3 separate regions of the Homo sapiens genome follow, and regions 1 and 3 are each linked to region 2. The links come from fine-mapping of genetic effects on gene expression. A gene starts in region 2. Each other region holds a variant in brackets. All regions are shown on one strand. Distances are between the middles of the regions. Region 1 overlaps NME7 (NME/NM23 family member 7). Region 2 holds the start of NME7 (NME/NM23 family member 7). Region 3 overlaps NME7 (NME/NM23 family member 7).

What was found. PIP is the estimated chance that this variant, and not a neighbour inherited with it, causes the effect.
Region 1: its variant is the best candidate, but not a certain one, in a credible set for the expression of NME7 in fibroblasts (GTEx, PIP 0.83).
Region 3: its variant is the best candidate, but not a certain one, in a credible set for the expression of NME7 in macrophages (Nedelec 2016, PIP 0.72).

What each region holds. Positions count from the first base shown.
Region 1 is chr1:169,164,625-169,172,736 of GRCh38, reverse strand. NME7 (NME/NM23 family member 7) reads left to right here. Exons shown (of 12, transcript NM_013330.5): 11 at 3,183-3,290. Among named protein-coding and RNA genes, the nearest start is that of ATP1B1, 62 kb to the right of the region's middle. The variant C/T (reference allele first, on the strand shown) is at 4,698.
Region 2 is chr1:169,364,992-169,370,480 of GRCh38, reverse strand. NME7 (NME/NM23 family member 7) reads left to right here and starts at 2,684. Exons shown (of 12, transcript NM_013330.5): 1 at 2,684-2,773. The coding sequence starts at 2,771. BLZF1 (basic leucine zipper nuclear factor 1) reads right to left here and starts at 2,286. Exons shown (of 7, transcript NM_001320973.2): 1 at 2,139-2,286; 2 at 931-1,008. The coding sequence starts at 958. RefSeq lists enhancers at 1,707-2,206, 2,465-2,544, 2,207-2,708, 1,648-2,847.
Region 3 is chr1:169,154,360-169,162,471 of GRCh38, reverse strand. The region is part of intron 11 of NME7 (NME/NM23 family member 7); the gene reads left to right. Among named protein-coding and RNA genes, the nearest start is that of ATP1B1, 52 kb to the right of the region's middle. RefSeq lists an enhancer at 428-687. The variant C/G (reference allele first, on the strand shown) is at 4,815.

The sequences.
Region 1 (8,112 bases), 200 kb after region 2:
GCAGGTGTGAGTGAGGTAGATTTAGGCAAGAATGGGGAGGACCTTGAATGCCACACTGGGGAGTTTAGACATTTGGCCATAGGCAATTATGAGCCTTCAAAGATTTTTTGAGCAAGTAAATAACATGATCGTATTGGCATTTAGGTACAAAATTATAGCAGCATGAAAAATGAACTAAAGATGGTTTGTTGTGTTGGAGAAATAGAGAATGTCAGTAAGATGAAGTGTCATGAAGATGGCAGAAGACCATATGTGCCCATCATCCCCTTGCTTACCAAGTCCTTACAGGAATTTACAGGAGATACTGTTTCACTGTGTGTTGTTTTAAAGAGTAAATCTCCAGTGATGCTGGAAAACAAGGAAGAGTACACACATACACATACACACACACACACACACACACACACACACACGTATGTTTTTGTTTTTGTGGGTTTGTTTTTTTTTTGTTTTTTTTTAGTTTTGTTACAGGCCATAAACTTCAAAAGACTCAAAGCAGATAGGATTGTATCGTTGAGGAAAACCAACACTCTAAAACGTGCAGGAGAGAACTGCTCCAGAAGGGGTAGGGGTACTGGGTGGGCTGCACATCAGACATATGGATGCAAGGCTGAGGAAGGGCATGGGGCCTTAAGCAGGGTGGTTAGTTGGAGGGCTGCATGAAGAGCAGCAGAGTAAATCAGCGCCTTCACATTTGCTTGCTTACATTGAGCAGAAGGCAGTTGATACTTTTAGCCACAGCCTAAGGCACTGAATGTGGGGCTTGAGCTAAAGAGGCAGAGCAATGGGAAGGCAGCTAATAACACTCAGGAAAAATGGTAGCACCCCCTTCTGAAAGGAAGGCAACCAGAATACCTCATCTAGCAGCATGTCCCTGGCATCTATGACAAGCAAATAGAGAACTCATAAAAAAAAAGAAAAAAAAAAAAACAGCCAGGAATTACCAACCATTTTTGTTGTTGTTGTTGTTTTTGAGATGGAATCTCGCTCTTTCACCCAGGCTGGAGTGCAGTGGCGTGATCTCGGCTCACTGCAACCTCCGCACCGCCGGGTTCAAGCCATTCTTCTGCCTCAGCCCCCCAAGTAGCTGAGACTACAGGTGCGTGCCACCATGCCCTGCTAATTTTTGTATTTTTAGTAGAAACAGGGTTTCACCATGTTGATCAGGCTGGTCTCTAACTCCTGACCTCAGGTGATCCACCCGCCTCGGCCTCCCAAAGTGCTGGGATTACAGGCATGATCCACCGCGCTAGGCCAACACACATGAACCTCTTCAGATTTCAAGTGCTGTGCATGTAGCAGACACTTATATGAAAGTAATCTTTTAATGAATGTAGTGCAAGTTAAATAAAATTTTCTTTTTTTGAGACAGGGTCCTACTCTGTCTGACAACCCAGGCTGGAGTGCAGTGGTGTCATTTTGGCTCACTGCAGCCTCGACCTCACAGGCTCAAGCCATCCTCCCACACAGCCTCCCAAGTAGCTGGGACTACAGGCGTGCACCACTACACCTGGCTAATTTTTGTATTTTTTGTAGCAACGGGGTCTCTCTGTGTTGCCAAGGCTGCTCTCAAACTCCTCCCAAAGTGCCGATTATAGGTATGAGCCTGGCCATCAAACAAAATTTGATAGAGAATAGGTTCTAATAAAACAGTTTACTGGAACTGAGTAATTTAAAAGTGTTTTTTTCCCTGACCGGAAATAAGAAAAAGAACGTTAGTACTCACTTTTCACAATTTCATAAATTACATCTTATGTCACAAAATGACAGCTTCCCACTATATAAGCAGAGTAAGGCTTCTGCTTGTTTTCTGAGATGGAGTCTGATCTGTCGTCCAGGCTGGAGTGCAATGCACAGTCTCGGCTCACTGCAACCTCCATCTCCCAGGTTCAGGTGATTCTCCTGCCTGAGCCTCCTAAATATCTGGTATTACAGGCACGCACCACCATGCCCAGCTAATTTTTGTAGAGACAGGGTTTCACCATGTTGAGACAGGGCTTCACCATGTTAGCCAGGCTGGTCTCGAACTCCTGACCACAAATGATTCACTCACCTCTACCTCTGAAAGTGTTGGGATTACAGGTGTGGGCCACCACGCGCAGCTGAGTAGGTTTTTAATATTGGATACTTACTTGCTAGAAAAATTACGGAGAACAGAATGAAAGTAATAAATATGAAATAAAATATAAAGACATCCTTATTTTCTACTTTATCAAAATGTTTTTCCTAAACATAATACATTTATAGCTGACATTTGATGGAACCCTGGCAAATAAAACTTAAGTAATTAAATAAATGCATGTCTTTAAAACATCCTTAAGTGATGGAACCACAAATGTGAGTGCTGCTCAGAATCTTTGCACCCTAAGCTACACCTGTCATGATTCTTTCTGATTTCCACTTTCATAGAGGTGACCCACTTACGACCTTGGCCTCTCAATCTGTTGTTCTTCTTTCTTCTAACATTCTTGCCCTCAGACTAACCTTATCCATGGTTATGCCTTAAAACTGATCATTATCAATCACTATAGCCCCCTCTCCTCCCACCCACAGTAATCTCAGTCTCGAGTATCTTTTAACTTTCCAGCTCTCTTCTTCTAACATACAGATCTCAATAATTATCCCATACCACTAGGAGCTCAAATTCATTGATCCACCTTTTCATTGTCAATTACCTCTTTATCCCCTAGGTCCTCTCTTCCTGTCTTTCTCAATTTAAATTTTTTTGTACATCATTATCATTCCCTTGCCTCTCTCTAACCCTCATTAAATTCAGGGCTATTTGTGACCATATTTTTTCTCTTAAAGATGAACTACCATTAAGTTGATACAGCTAACATTTTTTTAAAAGCTTTTGAAATCAATAGCATCAAATTGGTTCATTTTAAATCAAAGTTGTTAAGATCTCTACTGTCTTTATAAAATACAAGTCTTTCACAGTAATGAACTAGCTTCACATTTTGTGTGATTCCCATAATCTATTGATAAAAAGAAATGCAATTATTATTTTTCCCCGATGTAGATGAAAGCAGACTTTACATTGGGCCACAGAAAAACCCTTATAAGCACTGTCTATATATAACATGTATTTCATAAATAAGTTAGCGTTTCATATAGCTAGTGTTTTTCTTATTTATACCATATGACTAACATTAATCTATATGTGAATGTATGTTTAATAGGAAATTGCCCGGCATTTACGCCCTGGAACTCTCAGAGCAATCTTTGGTAAAACTAAGATCCAGAATGCTGTTCACTGTACTGATCTGCCAGAGGATGGCCTATTAGAGGTAAGATAAAGAAGGTAAACATCCTATTTATATTTCAAGCTCATAAATTATCTCAGGAGTTCTGATGTGTAAGAAAACTTTTTGTTTTATTGTTATACTTCAAGTTCTAGGTTACATGTGCAGAGAGTGCAGTTTTGTTACATAGGTATACACGTGCCCTGGTGGTTTGTTGCACCCATCAACCCATCACCTACATTAGGTATTTCTCCTAATGTTATCCCTCCCCTATCCCCCCCACCCCCTGACAAGTCCTGGTATGTGATGTTCCCCTTGGATGACTCTGTTACTTGGCCATCTGATGATTTTGGACTGCAACTTTGAAAGACCAAATTGTAGCATGCTGCATAGCTTTCAAAGAATTTAGATATTTTTTTCTGGTTGGCATACATTTTGATTTTAAAATAATTAAATTCTGTGAAATTTGTTTTTATATCAGGTGACTATACCATCACCATAAATTGCTAGTCATGAAAATACATACAGTTGACCCTTGAACAATGTTTGAACTGTGCTGGTCCACTTATATATTCATTTGTTCAATAAATATATTAGAAAGTTTGGAGATTTGTGACAATTTGAAAAAACTCTTGGGTGAACTTTGTAGCCTAGAAATATCAAAAAAATAGAAAAAAATGTGTATTATGAGTGCATAACATATATATAGATACTAGTCTATTTATGTGTTAATCGACTTTTTGTTATCGATGAAGCTCCCGGTCAACAGCATTAGTAGTTAAGCTTTTGGGGAATCAAAAGTTATATGTAGATTTTTCCACTGTGCAGGGGATAGGTACCCCATACCTCCACACTGTTTAAGGGTCAACTGTTTTCCAATGAAATTAAGAAGTCTAGCCAGGCTCAGTGGCATGCACCTGGAGTCCCAGCAACTTGGGAGGCTTAAGTGGGAGGATTGCTTGAAGCCAGGAGTTCAAGGCCACAGTATGCTATGATTGCATTTGTGAATAGCCCCTGAACTCCACCCTGGACATCATAGCGAGACTTTGCCTCCAAAAAAGGCGGGGAAGGAGTCTAATATACAGTGTGATAGTGTTACCCATGGCAAATTCATATGGGTCTGCAGCAACCTCAGTATCTGCCTCTTCAGAAGAAAGAATTCAACTGAGGAAGCATAAGGCAGAAGGAGAGACTGAGGCAAGTTTTAGAGCAGGAGTGAAAGTTTACTTAAAAGCTTTAGAGCAGGAACAAAAGAAAGGAAAGTACACTTGGAAGAGGGCCAAGCAGGTGACTTGAAAGACAAGTGTATGGCTTGACCTTTTGACTTGAGGTTTTTATATGATGGCATACCTCCAGGGTCTTGCACTACTTCTGACCACTTGCCCAACTCCTGAGATCTTATTGAGAAGCCGCTCGTCACCAGTTTTAGGTGTTTTCTATCTACTAGGAGAC[C/T]GCCGTTCCCTGGCGCCAGCTGTGACCAATTATTACTTCAGAGAGACAGTTAACAACCACCTGACCATCACCTGATGGTCTCCCAACACTCCTGGTGTGAGGTATGGGAGCCCTTTCCTGCCCTGCTCATACCCGACTAGCTACCAAGTATAACAATAGCACTCAAAGTGATAGCTAACATTTTGGTCACCTTTATTAACCAGATTCTACCATGACACATGTGTTGTATAAATGATTTCTTTTCATTGCCATAGCAACTCCAATAGGCTGGTATTCATTATATCTGTTTTTTTAGGAAACTGAAATTGAGACTCAGAGAGGTTAAGTAACATCCCCAAACCAGACAGCTAATATGAAACAAAGCCATATTTGATCTCTCATCTTTTAAATTAACATAAAATATGAAATGAAAAATTCTGAGAAAATATAAGTGAAAATGGGTCCAGTTTAGGGTTAAGAAAGTTATTTCTAGGCCAAAATCCAAGAAGGAAACTGTAAATAAATATTTTATTTTTTTAACTTCTTATAGATTTTAAAATTTTTGTGTCAAAATAAGCTAAATGAAATTTAAAAAGAAATAATAAATTTAAGTGATTAAATGAAGAAAAATGGTTGATATCCTTAATACACATTTATTTTAATGAGTATTATGTTTTATGTGATCAAATCTATTAGTCTTTTAAAAAAAAATTATGTCCTGGAAGTTGTACATAGAAAAGCCTTCCCCAAATATTTTGTTTTCATTTTCATACATTGAAATGTTCAATCCACCTGGAATTTATTAGACATATAGTGTGAGGTATGGATTTAGCCAGCTATCACAATATTATTAATAATAAACAATTTATTTTATTTAAATGGCTAAATCCATCCATCCTTTCATTGTTCTTTCTCATTTATTGAATACTTATATACATCCTTGCCTGTTTCTGAACTTCCTATTTTATTCCATTGATCTGTACCAGCAAAATACTGTTTTTATTATTGTAGGTTATTTATACTTTACAAAAGTGTTCTTGGTTAGTCCCTAAAATGTATTCCTCCAAATGAACTTTTTATTTATTTATTGAGAGGGAGTCTCACTCTGTCGCCCAGGCTGTAGTGCAGTGGCACAATCTCGGCTCACTGCAACCTCCGCCTCCTGAGTTCAAGCATTTCTCCAGCCTCAGCCTCCTGCATAGCTGGGATTACAGGTGCATGCCACCATGCCCAGCTAATTTTTTGTATTTCTAGTAGAGATGAAGTTTCACCATGTTGGCCAGGCTGTCTCCTGACCTCAGGTGATCCACCCACCTCAGCCTCGAAAAGTTCTGGGATTACAGGCATGAGCCACCACGCCTGGCCAACCTCCGAATGAACTTTAAATGACTTTTTACCGAGGTCTTTACTCCACCCCTACAAAATGCAAGTGGGACTTTCAGTGACATTACAATATGTTTATAAATTATATGGAAATGTCATATCTGTAATAGTGAGTTTCTCCAACTTCATATGTGGTATGCCTCTCCTTTTATGCAAGCAGTAGAGTCACTTTTTTTCATATAGTTCTTAGTAATAGTCTATTAAATTTATCACCATAAGTTTCTTTGTTGTTGTTATAGAAAATGACTTTGTTAGCTCCATTAAGATTTTCTGTTATAATCCAAGATATTTGTAAAACCTTATCTATTATGCATCTTTGTATGAAATTTAGACATACTTGTGAAATGTAAAAATGTACCAAGCTTTATTTTTTAATAACCAAAAAGATTAAATGTTTATTTTAAATTTTAACTTATTTTATAAATAAATATTTCCTCACTTTCTGATAGCTTGGACCTATCAACTAGGTTTGAATAGAGACTTTTATTTAATGAGACTGAAATGTTATTAACCATGAAATTTATACCCATTAAAAATATTATCCAAGAGGGCCTGAGGGGAAAAAAAGGAAAAAGTATTATCTAAGGTATGCCTATGATTTTGTTCATATTGTTTGAAATAGATTATTACTGCCTGTAGTTTGCAAAGCCATTTACTAAATGATTGCAATTTTTCTGATCTAACTTCACTGGAGATTTCAGTGTACATTAATGACTGTGTGGTTTAGAGAATTAATCAAAAATCAGAAGTTAGAGCATCAGTAGCTTCCTCTTATATGGCTGATTATTTTCTTGATATGAACTTGAATAAGTCACATTTTCTTTCCATGCCTCACTTCTTTTATCAATAAAATGAAATAAAGAGTGCTGAGATAGTCAAGGATGCCCTTATCAATTAGCTACTTTCAGATTATTATTTGGCTTCAGATGATAAAATATTATGAAAATACATAAAGGCCAAATGAGGTATCTGGCTATAGGTCTTCAAAGTGAAAATCCGAGTGACACAAGACAAGTTGTCTGATCAGTGAGCACTTTGTTCCTAGGATCAGCTCTTCATTAGGGGGACATCCTTTAGATGCAGAGTGACCATAAAATTTATTGCCCAATTAAACACCCTTTGAAAGGCAGCTCTAATCAGAAAAGATGTTCGGACAAGAGGCATAAACCAGAACTGTCACACGCAAACTAGAATATATTGTTATCCTATTTATATGGCAAGAAGAGAAAGAGGGGAACATGCTACTTCTCTTTAATCTTTCCCTAATGTGATGTTTACTGAGCTATGTGTCATGGGTATAGAGCTCAGAAAGTATGGCTTCAGTTTATATTTTGTCATTATCCATTATTTTATTTATTTATTTATTTATTTATTTATTTTTATAGCAAACAATTATAGAACATGTTTTACTTGCTGGATTGTGATAGGATCAAACAATTCATTTCTACTGTTCTCCTAGAACTCATAGTAAGTTTGAGAGGTCAAAGATCTTAGCATGAATACAGAAATTTGTTTTCTTTGAATATTGCTAATTGTGACCCAGTCAATTTTGTGATTATAGGAATAAATTATGGTATTTATGAGACATTCTAGAATGTTCTGTCACTGTTAATGTTCTCTTATACTCTGCTGGTTGTAACTACAATGATCTTAAATTTGTGTGTTAAAGATAGCATTGATGGTAAAATGTTCAGCTGAGTAATCAAATACTAGTTTTCTATTAATGGCAAAGAACTTTTGAAGTAATAATGCCCACTGCTGGCAATGCTACAGTAAAGTAGATACCCTCATATAGCTGGTGACAACTATGGGCAAAACATATTGAAAGCCTTGGAATATTTCTATAACTTTTGTCCCAGAATTCTACTTCTTAGGATCTAAGCAAAGGAAGAGAGTGGCAGCAGGACTACAAAATGGAAAGTTATCTGCACAGATGTTCATGGAAGGAGTATTTGTGATCATTAACAATGGAAATAATACGCATGTTTACAGATACATCCCACCTTACCTCCTCTAAGAAACCTTCCATGGCACCCATAGTCTGCATCAGTCC
Region 2 (5,489 bases):
TGATGTCATGGAAGTCATCAAAAGAACGTATCTCAAAAGGCAGGGAATGGTCAACAGTATTAAATATTAGAGAGGACAAATCAGCTAGGACTAAAAAGTGACTACTGTATTTAGCAATTTAGGGGTTGAATTGTGTCCCCCAAATCTTTATTTGTTGAAGTACTAACCCCCCACTACCTCAGAATGAGACTTCATTTGGAAACAGGATCACTGCAGATGTAATTAGTTAAGATGAAATCATACAGGAGTAGACTGGGTTCCTTTTTTCAATATGACTGCTGTCTTTATAAAAAGGGTAAATTTAGACACAGAAACATGCACATAGGGAGAATGCCATGTGAATATGAAGGCGGAGATAAGGGTGGTACGTCTACAAGACAAGGAGCACCAAAGACTGCCAGCAAGCCACTGGAAGCTAGGAGAGTGTCTCTAATGCCTTCCGAAGGAGCACAGCCTTGTTGACATTTTCATCTTGGACTTCTAGCCTCCAGAACTGAGAGAATACATTTTGTTGTTCAAGCCATGCAGTTTGTGGTACTTTGTTACAGCAACCCCAGCAAACTAATACAACATGAAAGAGATCTTTGATACACCCTAGTTGCTTTGTCTATCTACTTAAATCTTTAAAATGTGTATTCTTATTTAAATCGTAATCTTCTAGTGTATAGGGAATATAGCTGTTAAAAACTTTGCATTAACATTAAATGTTTAAGAGTAGTCACCTAATAAATTCTAACTAATGATGTTAAATTTCACTTGTACATCTAAAGTACTGAAATATAAACACTGCACTAAAAAATAAACATAAAGGGATCTGAAATAACAAATGATTCCCAAGGGGGTCCATGAGATCTAGTTATCTGGCTCAAACGTTCCTTCACATCGTCATAAATGTCATGTTTTAAAAACAATTATAAAAAAGCCACTTACCTTTGGTTTCTAAATTTTTAGTAGTCATTTTTTCACCTTAACCACTGAAAATGCACTCCAAGACTTCTGCTGAACAACCTAGAAATGTATGCATATGAAATAATTTTAAAAATATCATATAAACACATAGAGTACCTCCAATTTAAAAGTTATGATATTTTAATTGCTTCTGTATTTAGTACGCATGCATTTAGAAAGAGAAATGTCCCTTATATCCCATTCTCACAGAAGGCATTGTTATGTCTACTAAAAGTCTCAAAAAAAAAAATTAGGGGTGGTTTACTTCTAAATACTCCGTTTCACCATCCTCACCAATACACTCTAAATTGTCAGAAGTATGTCCTGAATTTTAGCCAAGCAAAGGGAATGAAGTTACTGTGGTGGTTTTGTCATCCATATGACAAGAGGAATTTTAAAGTAATTACTTTCTTAGGAGACATACCGACACAATTTGTATACACACACACACATATCAAAAAGGAGCTTCTGTTTAGATGTTTAACAAACGACAAAAAATATTACTCAAGATAACATAATTTATACTTTTTTGGTAATAAAAAGTTAAAATTAAAATAGTGTAGCTCCAAAAGTAAAAAGAGAAACATATCGAGCCCATGCTTTCAGAAATGTATACATTGTCTTACAGTACAGACTCAGATTTACCAGAGAACATATAAGAAGGTGATGCTACTGCAATGATATAAATATGACAAACTGTACACTAGATGACAACTGGTTTCACTACAAAAAAAGATCGTTCTCAGTACTAGATACAACTCAGTTCAATTAGTGAACCCGACGACTAACTTTCTTAACAGTCACAAACTTTTCTACACTTACACTCTACTGCTCCGAAAAGAGGTATCCAAAAAACCCTTCGTAAGAGTAACGATCCCTGAAACTGCCCTTGATAGCTGCTCTGCGAAACGTACAGGCACAGCGAGTGCCTGCTGGCAAATGCCAAATGAAGCGGAGGGGGTGAAGAAGTAAGTAGGGGGAGTGAGCAGGTATGAAAGCGATAGGCCGGGAAGCGACAAGCCTGTCAACTTTGCTGTCCGGGGAAGTCGAAACCTAAGTTTCATCCCTGTCTGAAAAAGTCTTCCCGGAACAATCTTTCCCTAAATCCAAAGCTACTGGCCACCGAGCTCCAGCCAGACCTCCGTCCCTTTCCAACATCCTTAGTTATACCTGCTTGTCCTCGGATTTACCTCTAAGATTCTTATTCTCCGTATTTCAGGGGGCTTCACTTGATAGGCTCTTCGGATCGGTATCACCAGGTTAACTTCTCACAGACCTCTTCCATTCGGAAGCCGACCCGCCCAGTCCCTCCGCATATCCAGCAGCTCTCTCACTCCTAACCACTTCCGATTACTCAGGGTTTCGCTTCCGGAATACGTTTCCAAAAGAGCAGGGTAAACAAATTCTGCAGTGCGTATAAACTCAAGTAACACAGAACACACACTGTAAGGCCTCCGTAAGTGAAAAGCGGACAGATTTCTACTTTAAAATAAAATACCGTACAGCAACTTTTGGAGCCCAAGCCGCATATTCACTTAAACTTCCGGGCCAGCTGTTAAACAAACGGAAGTAAAACTGCCGGAAACAGAATAATGGCGTCTCGTAGCCCCAGGCGACAGCGTGGAGGGGCGGGTCTGTCGATTGGATGAACGCAGCTGAGATTACTCCCAGCCACTAAGGACGAAGAGGTGGGGCGGTGGCGTCCCACGCCTCGTGCGACAGTGGGCGGGGCTTTGTTGCCTGAGTAACCGTATGATGGTGGTGGTGGTGGTGTCTTCCTGTCTCAACGATACCTATTTTCTAGTGCTGAGATCCTGAGACAATGGTGAGTGCCAGGGGATGCCAGAAGAACGGCTCTGGGGTCCTACTTACTTAGCTTTCCAAGTCTTCGGGCGGATGGGCACTTAAAGTTGTCCGGTCCTCCCGACCTTCTCCCCGTTATCTCTTTCCCCCTTCCCACGGGCTGTTCCTGCAGTCTCCTCGCTCTCCGTATTTCTTACAGCACCCTGAATTCCACTAATGTTACTAAGTCTCTAGAGTAATGAAACAGAAAATTTAGGGTAAGGCATCGAGTCTAATAACCTGTTTTGAACAAACATTATGTGTTTGCATTGTTCATCATGGCATTTTTCATGTTCACAGATTCACATTAACGCGCTTTATTAAGAGTATGGGGTGGTGTGTATGTGACTGTCTCAACACTGATCTGAATCTCCCTAGATCTTGGAGTCTTTTTGCTTTTCTGAGTGGCAGAGCACTGCCCCACGCCCCCACGAGGGCCATTAACAGGTGTATGTTGGATCAGCGCTCTTCTATCCAGTTGGTTACCTTCTAGGTCTGTGCTTGCTTTTCTTTTCTCTTTTCTTTTCTTTCTTCTTCTTTTTTTTTTAAACAGAAATTTCTCCTGGGATTGCTTGGAGAGCTTCTGGAATTCACTGTTTGGGCTTCACCCCTGGAAATTCTGAATGAAAGGAATGGAGCTCGGTATTTGCATTTTAAATAAGCCTATAGGTTATTTTAATTCACCCCTATGTTTGAGAGGGTTCTAGTTAATTCACTTAACTACCATATCTTTTAAGCACTTATGGATAACGGACTGGAGGATAGAAAGATCTTTAGATAGTTATAGCTATGAATTTAGAAACAGAGCCCTCACCCACCACCCCTTGTTTCTTCATACTACTCAGCAATCCTTTTGGTTACCCCAGTTTTCCCCTGACCCATTCTCTGTGAAGACATTTTCAAACCTTCCCTTTACAAACCCTGTCTTTTGCCCTCTTCATTTCTCCTTTCTAAACATGATGGAGTATAACAGGCCATTTCTTCAACCTCATGCCCCCAACCTACACATTGCTCTATATTTTTGCCGAGCCTTTAGTCTTGTATTTCTAGTGTAGAGAAAGGGATATTAAAGGATAATCCATCCATCTTTGCTCTTGATCTCATTTGCTTCCATCTGTTACATTTCGCTTCCAGTTGTTTTTTTCTTTCCTGTGCGTTCAGCCTTTTCCTCTCCAGTTTCTTCTCTTCAGTGCTCAAGTCACACATCTTATGAAAATTAAATAAAGCAAAACCATGTCCTCCATCCTGTGTTTATCCAGTTATTTCCTAGTCCTCCTATCTATCAGTAAACTTCTTGAAAGGATATTATTTTTACTTATATCAAACAGACAAAAGTCTTCTGTCTGGCTTCTTTAATGGCTTCAAGAAAGTTGTTCTTGCTTAAGTTTCTAATGGCCTTTTAAATACCAAATACAGTAATTACTTCTCAAAATTTACATTACTTAGTCTCTTTGTGACAACTGAGGTTCATAGTCATTAATTCCTTTTACTGGCTGTGCCTGGTTTTTGAATGTCATTCTTTGGAATTAACTCCTTGATTACTTTCATTTCTTAGTCTAGACATTTTCCTTGGGTGATTTTGTCCACTCACATGGATTCTACTAACACCTTTGATTTTGCTTCTAAATTTCAATTTTCCTCTCAGATCTACTAATGCCTAACTCAGTTGCTTCCCGGACACATCTGTCTCAAATGTCCTTCAAACTTAATATGACCAAAACTGAACTTGCTATCTTTCCTCCTGGTTTCTCCTATTTTCACCAAGTTAAATAATGCTACTACTATATTATAACCTAAACTAGAAATCAGAGTTATCCTACATTCCTCCCTCTTCTATTTCTCCCATATTCAGTTGTTCACTAGATCAAATTTTAGTTTGTCATCTCCTCATTTCGTGATTATTTTAATAGTGACTTTTACAGTCTGGTCTGGAAATTCTCCAATCCATTATTTTCTCTGCCACAAGAAGGAATTTTTAAAAACCCAACCTGTTGATTTACTCACCTCCTTAAAACTCTAGATTCCCTATTTCCTACAGTAAAATGTCTAGAATGGCACACAAGTTCCTCCATGAACAAGCACTTTTCTGTCTAGCTTTTGCCTTTCCCTTTCCATACTTAAAAAAAAAAAATTCTCTTGCCTTTTAGCTACTTGCTTTTCATTGAACATACCAAGCAACTTCAAACTGGTAGTATGCCTCCTCTTTCTACTTTGCACTTGCAATTCCTTCTACACAGAATACTTGCACCCTCTTGTTGCTTGCCAAACTTATTTATTCTCCTATTACAGGCCAACGTGTTCTTCTTGCCCACTTCCCAGAAAGGCCAAACATTGAGAATGCAGGAGTTGCAGCAGAGAAAGAGTTTAATGGAGGCAAGGCAGTTGAGTGGAAGGATGGGAAATATTTCTAAAATCCGCCTCCCTGACAGCTTGGAAGTTGTGGTTTTCAAGGATAATTTTGTGGGCAGGTTGGTAGGGAATGGGCGCTGCTGATTGGTTGGGGATGAATTTATAGGTGTTTCCAAACTGTCTTCCTGTGCTGAGTCAGTTGTCTAGGTGAGAGTCATAGGACTAGTAGAGTCAGTTTCTTGGTATGAGGCATGTATCTGGGTGGCATCAGGAGGTTTGCCAGAATGCAGAAGCCTGGAAAATATCTCAAGACCAATCTTAGGTTTTACAATAGTGATGTTATCTAAAGG
Region 3 (8,112 bases), 210 kb after region 2:
TTTCAGGAGACAGTTATGTATAGCAAATATTTTATAGGATGATGAAAACATAGGTCTTTCCTGTTTTTTTTTTTCTAAATGTTCTGTAACTTGGTGATACCACTTTTGTGATTATAAAATTTTAAGAAGCATATAAAATATTTAATTGTATGTATAAGTTTAATTGCCCAACGGGTTCTTCCTGCCCCCTGCACAGAGAAAATCAGTTCACCAAGACTGTGGTATTGAAGTTACCATTTTAATTGACAAGAGGCCGCCCACATAAGAGATGGAATTATTACTCAAATCAGTCTCCCCAAAGGATCAAAGGTTAAGGTTTTTATGGACAATTTGGTGGGCAAGGGCTAGGAAGTGTGTACTGCTGACTGACTGGGGATGAAATCATAGAGATGTAGAAAACGGTCCTCTTGTGCTGAGTCTACCTCTGGGTGGGGCCACAGGATCAGTTGAGTCATAAGTCAGGGTCAAGGTGAGGTCCATCGGTTGCCGGAATGCATATCTAAAAAAAACATCTCAAAAGACCAATCTTAGGTTTTACGATAGTGATGTTACCTATGGGATCAATTGGGGAGATCACAAATCTTGTGACCTCTGGACCACATGACCCCTGAGCAGTAAAGCATTATAGAACCTAGGTCTACATTTTAGCAGCATTCAGGCCCCTCCCATAATATTAATATTGTGGCTTTTCATTAGTTTTACAAAGACAGTTTTCAGTTCCCTAGCCAGGAAGGGGTTAGTTCTTGTTTTCAGGTTAAACTATAGACTAAGTTCCTCTCATGGTGAGCTTGGCTGACACCCAGGAATGAGTGAAGACAGCCAGTCTGTGAGGCCAGAAGCAAGATGGAGTCAGCTATGCTAGACTCCTCTCACTGTCATAATCTTTGCAAAGTCAGTTTCATAAGTAGTTGATCAAATCTGAATTTGGATACATAATTACTTCTGCATGGATTCTTATTCTGGTACACTCTGGGGGAAAAAATAGTGAATCAAGGATTAATCAGAAATAAACATAGGTGCATGGTGACTAAGATGATTGGACAGGCCCCAATTTCTTGGCCGTGATTAACGCAGGCCTCTGCACATACTGACACTCATAATTTATCTTTAGTTTTAGCTTCTATCTTGAAAGAAGAAGAGTTGTGATTTTTAGTAGTACATTGTCAAAGAGGGAACAACTTGTACAAATACAAAAGCAAACAGCTTTCTCTTAGAGATCTAAAAATAGTGCAGTAAGACTGGGGCTTTGACCAGGAGGTAGAAAATGGCAAGAGATAAAGCTGGAAACATCAGCAGGGGCCTCGTAAAGTCATATTAAGACAACTGAACTTCATCTTGAGGCCATTAGGGATCCAAATAAATGTTTTACTCAGGGGAATAGCACAATGATACCTGTGTTATAGAGGTCACTCTGGCTGCAGTATAGAGAACAGATGAAAGGGCCCTGGGGTCAGGCAGGGAAACAAGTGGGTGGAGTCTAGGGGGACAGAGACTAGGTAGAAGTCTATTAAGTAATTCAGGAGAAAATTCTGGTTTCCTGAATTGCTATGGCAGAAGGGATAGCCAGAAGCAGTGAGCTTCAAAAGACATTTAGTGGGGTAGAACAGAAAGCCTCAGAGACTAATTGGATGTGAAAGGTAGCCTGTGGGAATGAATCCAGATTAATGCCTATCCCCAAGCAAACGTGATAGTACCATCTTTATCTGTGTTACCAAAATCTAATAATCTAAAAATGTCTGAAAACCAAAGTTTTTTCATAAGTTTAATGGTAAAACCTAACCTGTCTTATATCAAGTTGTGTATCATTAAACAGTTTTGTTTCAGTAGCTTGACAAAACATTTAATGTATATCATTTTTATTTAACCTATTTAGTGTGACTCTTCACACTGCTGTAAAAATATTAATGTATTTGATGATGAGTGACTTCCCAGACCCCTTGGAGTATTATATAATATATACTATATATTCCAGATTATTATTGTAAATTCCAAAACATCTAGTACCAGGAGTCTTGAATAAGAGATAGTAGACAAAGTTTGAAGTGGCCATGGAGAAAGTGCTGATGACAGAATATATATTTATGGGTTGTATTTACAATTCAGTTGATTTAGGAGATTACATGTATTATGGTGTTATTATTTTCTGGTGAACAGTTTGGCCCAGGGGTGAGGTTTTTACAGGAGGGTACGATGAGGAAAGATAATTGAGGATGTTAGCAACTATAGTTGAAGTTATAAACAAGGAAAGATGTGATGGCAGGAGGTGCTTGAAGAAAGGGATAAAGTAGATGGGCCAAGGGACCGAATGCTTTTCTAAGGTACCTACAGAGACCCCAGGAATAACAGGGAAAGAGCTGTGTCACTGTACACTTCAGAAGTGGAGCTTTCCATGGTAATGGATGATATGATTCAGGGTGTGGCCATGGAAGGAGGTAGCCAGTGTGGAGTGGAGATCAGTATCAGTCACTAGAGATATGTAAGTCTAGGAACTGAGAGAAGCTTTCATGTTGAGTGGCATTGAAATCACCTAGGATCATGGTTAGGAGGTAGGGTGGAGAAGAAAATGGTGACTCAAATTCTGAAGTCTTTCACAAACTAGGGAAGTTTGTGAACCAAAGGTGTGACAGCAACAAGGAGAAAAGATCTAGCCAGATGGCATAAGCCTCAAAAAGTCAGGAGTTCATATATAAGGGGAGGAGGTCTTAAAGTAGCACTGGGACAAAGGATAGAACTACTCCTACCCTCCTGGCCAGAGATTCTTATCCTGCGGACTCCAAGGAATTGATGCCCTTAGGGGATATCCAAGTTTCATTTAAGGCTAAGAGGCCTATGAAGAGATTCAAGTTTCAAGGGAGTTTACAATGGCACTGAAGTTCTGCAGAAAGCAATAGGAATAGTTAGAGATTGGGGAAGGGAAGAAGAATCTCAGAGCCATGTGAGAATAGCAGGATCGGAGAAAAGAGGTGAATATAATGGCCTCCATGTTGGTGGGTTGGGGTGTGACAAATTAATAATTAATTTTCTGGTCACTAGTAAATAGAGACCTTAAAATCATCTTTAAAAATGAGAACTTTTATTTTTCCGCCCCATAATTTGAGATCTGAAGGTAGGCATGTGGGACTGGTATGGCAACTCCGTAATACCATCAGTCACCCAGTCTCCTCCTCCTTGGTACCGTCATCATCTTTAGTATGTGCTTTTTGCCTTGTTGCCACAGAATGGTTGTCAGAACTCGAGTTATCACTTCTTTTTTCCAGGCATAAAGAAAGAAGAGTGAGGGCAAAAGGCGAAGAATGCCAGCTGAGCTAACACTTCCTCCCTCGCCCACCTTTAAGCTTTTCCAAAAACCAGAGCCCTCACCCAACAGCTTCAGGTTATGATTTTTGTTGTTGCTGGGATTTAGTACTGTGGCCGCCCCTTTTTAGAAAGGAAGTGAGTAAATGTAGTTCTGTTACTTGGGAACATTGCTCCCACTAGCAAAAATCAAGATACTGTTAGAAGGAAGAAAGGGAGAATGAATGTTGGAAAGGTAAAAAGCAGTATCTTCTCCAGGTGGTCAAGAGGCATTTAGCTAGTAAACAGGCTTCCAATGGAACTGGCCCTAGCTAATCCCTAGTGCAGTGGTTCTTATGTGTCCTCCCCTGCTCCAGAACAGCTGCATCACCTGAGAACTTAGGGGAAATGAAATTCTCGGGGTCCACTGTAGGCCAGCTGCTTAGCAACTCGGGGATTTGACCCAGGAATCTGTGCTTTAACAAGCCCTCCAGGTGCTTCTGATGCCCATGAAATTTGAGAACTACCGTCCTAGTGCAGCGGTTCCCAATCAATGGCATGCATTAAAATCACCTATAGAGTTTTTTTTAACTATGTAAGCCTAGAGCCCTATTATAGAAGATTCTGGTTAAGGAGGTCTGGTATGAGCTCCTTATATCTATAGAGTAGAGCCCCGTTATTCATGGTTTCACTTTCCACAGCTTCAGTTACCCATGGTCAACCATGGCCCAAAAATATAAAATGGAAAATTCCAGAAATAAACAATTTATAAGTTTTAAATTGTATGGTACCTTAAAGAGCAGGGTTGCAAAAATTAAAAAATAAAAAGTTTTAAATTGTATGCCGTTCTGAGTAGTATGAGGAAATATTACAGTATATTGTTATAATTATGCTATTTTATTGTTAATCTCTTACTGTGCCTAATTTATAAATTAAACTTTATCTCTCATACATATGGAAAAACGTAGTATAGATAGAGTTCGGTACTATCCACAGTTTCAGGCATCCACTGGGGGAACTGGAACATATTCCCCACTTATAAGGGGGCACTACTGTATTTTATGTTGCAGGTGATTCTGATATTCTGATATGGCTGATAGTTAAACTAGCATTTAGAAACCACTGTCCCAGTGAGTAGGGGCACACCAGACTTTTTTAAAACTTGTAAAAGAACCTATCAACATAGTAAACAGACAACCTATCGAATGGGAGAAAATTTGGGCAAACTGTGCATCTCACAAAGGTCTAATATCCAGCACTTATACAAAACTTAAACAAATTTACCAAAAAGATAAAAAACCTCCATCAAAAAGGACATGAACAGACACTTCTCAAAAGAAGACATACACCAGACTTCTTCGAAGTCGGCTTTGGTTCTGCTTTTGAGGAAAGCCTAGACCCTGTGAGAAGGCCAGCAAAGGGATTGTTTTGCTTTCAGGACTTAACTGACAGTTGGAAGCAGCAGCAGCCTCTTAACTTTGAAAGGATCAATAGCCTCTCTAGATGGATTTAATTGTAGCCAAGGGTTGTTACACTTCCAA[C/G]GGAACTCCAGTCTCTGAATGGGGGAATCTGTGGCTTCTGTGGAAGGAGCCAGCCATGACCTGATTGATTACCCAGATTTTTTGGGGGGAAGTCTCAATGTGAAGGCTGCCATTTGCCCTCCCAGGGAGGAGGAGAGGCCTGAGATATGTGGTATGCATGTATTGCATGGATGCTGAGGGTAACAAGGGCAGAGGCCCTGGGTTTCTTGCAGCTTAAAATAGTTATCTGCAGGTTCATCAAATCTGCACTCACCATTTGGCATGGTCATGTGGCTCAGAGGTGTACAGGGGACCAACTCTTGTCATTCTCCCTGTGGGTTGTGTAAGTGCCTTGAGGACCTGGGCTTATAAGGGACTTTTGTATCTCCAGCTGCTAACATATTGCAGGCTTTTAGTCTGTTGAGTAAATGCATGTGGGAATATATCATGAATGGGGACAGTGCACCTCCATACCCTCTCTCTCTTTATGTGGCGGAAATGTCTCAATGACCTGATGAGAGTGAGCCCCACTTTCAAGTACCACATCTCACCATTCCCTCCACCTGCCAGTTGCCAGAAAAGTCCACTGCAGCATCCCAAAAATGTGAACAATTATTATGTATCAATTAAAAAGGCCACGTCCACCAGCATCTTCTTTCATTGCTGTTTATTCAAGTAAAACCTGAAATATGTGCATGTGGAAAGCGAATGGTTTGCATGGATTCTTTTCTTCCTTCTCAAACCTGATATTTCAGAAGTCTCTACATTCATCGTAAAAACATCATGATAATATAAGAGGCCTTAAGCTATCAAATTGTAATTCTTTATGGCCCAGTTAGTATTTCATCAGCATTGGTTGTTTTCTCAGATAAAAGAATCTTGGATAAGGAGCAATTTCACATTCCCTCCTATATCCCGTCATAGTGGGGCATAAGTTCATTGCTAGATTCAAAGGGAGTTACAGGTTCATAGGTCTTTCTGTTTCTCAAGTACAGTGCCAGCTCCACCTTTCTTCAGATAGGCTGCCTTCTGAATCTGAAAAGTAACAAGCTTAATGACTTAAGAACTGTATTTAATATAATTTATCCCACTTTATATAGGCACTTATAAAATCATTTGCCGAAGACTCTAGGATTATTTTAGATTAATTTATTTTGTATAAATTGGTTAATTAATAACTATGGAAAATCCATATAAAATAAATAGACACAATCATTGGACTAAAAGTGACCTTACAGGGGGCATTTAAGAATCTCCAGGCATTTTGTCTCAGCACTTTTTGCATCTTCTCTACCTATTCCCTGGGAAATGGTTCTCAAACAGTAGCACAATTCCTGGATGGCTTTTTAATTTTTTTTTTAATTTTTTTGAGACAGAGTCTCACTCTGTCACCCAGGCTGGAATGTAGTGGCATGATCACAGCTCACTGCAACCTCGACCTCCCAGGCTCAAGTGATCCCTCCTCAGCCTCCCTAGCAGCTAGGACCACAGGCATGCACCGTCATGCCCCACTAATTTTTTTTTGTAGAGACAGGGTCCCCCTGTGTTGCCCAGGCTGCTCTAGAACTCCTGGGCTCAAGCAATCGTCCCACCTTGGTCTCTCAAAGTGTTGGAAATTACAGGTGTGAGCCACCATGCCTGGCTGGGCTTTTTAAAAATACGGATTGCTGGGCTGTACCCCCCAGTGTCTAGTTCAGTAGACCTGAGATAGAGCCTGAGAATTTGCATTCTAACAAGTTCCCAGTTAGTGCTGATGCTATTGGTTTAGAGTACCACACTTGGAGAGCCACTGTTCTGAGCCAAAAAACACTGTGCACTCTCCATTAAGTCAAGTTGTTCTCTTGATTAATTTTTGTCAAGCTGTTGTCAGATTTGACATTTCACAGACCTGGAACATTTCAAAAAAAAAAAAAAAACTAAACAGTAATAAAACCCACTTCAGGGATAGACACAATGATAAAGTTTTTAAAATTTAACAAATGAAGACATTAGAAAAATTTGTTTCCCATCATCATCGTTTTGTTTTAAAAGGACATTTAATCACCAACAGCATTTTATCACAGAATAATGGACTGTCTCTTCAACTGAATAAATTCAGCTTTACCTGAAGCTCACTTTATTGCTATTGCATGCCAAAGGCATGATGGTCGAAGCAGTCCACTTCAGGCACAGGCAAAACAGCATTGCATCTTCTGTAGATCATTTTAAAACAATAATAGAATCCACTAATAGTTTGTCTGCTTTTTGTTATCACCATAAACAGGCAGTTCCAAACAACGTCAGTGAGAAAATACTGCCCCTTCCCCAGGGTGGACTACTCCTGCCAACCCTTGCTTCATCACTGCTTTGTTGCCCTCATTTTTCCCATTTTGCCAGAAAGCAGTGAAATGTCATCCTAGACCCTCACCATCTGGTGGTTGGGAGCAACTGGGCTAAGTTACACATGCTTATGGAGTCTTTGATTGATAATTTTATTCAAACTTGATATGGAAAACATATATCACATTTCATAGGTCAAAGAGGAATGTAAACTAGTTGAGTCCTGCGAGTGGTGATTTTATCTATGTTAAAGAAAATTGGGACAGGTGCTGTGGTAATCCCAGCACTTTGGGAGGCTGAGGCAGAAGGATTGCTTGAGCCAAGGAGTTCAAGACCAGCCTGGACAACACAGCAAGACCCTGTCTCTATCTTAAAAAAAAATTTTTTTAAATTATACAAATTTTAAAAACATATTTTAAAAATAAAGAAAAAATCCTTTATAATTATTTGGAGAAATAGAGTATTCTTTAACACTTATACATGGGCACAAATATTTTTAAAAATATTTATTTAACTAGGACTAATGGACAAAGGTAGAAAATTCTGATTTTTTTTTTTTTTTTAGACAGAGTCTTGCTCTGTCGCCCAGACTGGAGTGCACTGGCTTGATCTCAGCTCACTGCAACCTCCACTTCCCGGGTTCAAGCGACTCTTCTGCCTCAGCCTCCTGAGTAGCTGGGACTGCAGGTGCACGCCACCATGCCCATCTAATTTTCATGTTTTTAGTAGAGACGGTGTTTTACCATATTGGCCAGGCTGGTCTCGAACTCCTGATCTGCTCACCTTGGCCTCCCAAAGTGCTGGGATTACAGGTGTGAGCCACCGTGCTTGGCCTCTGATTTTCAAATTCAAAATAAAAAGCCAGAGATTTTTTTATAATATTGAGTTCTTCAATGTAACATGAGGAATTAAAAATTAATTTTATCTCCTTAATCCATGGCTTAATTTTAAGTTAACTACCACATGTTATTTTATTTAAATTTCATTCATTCATTGATAT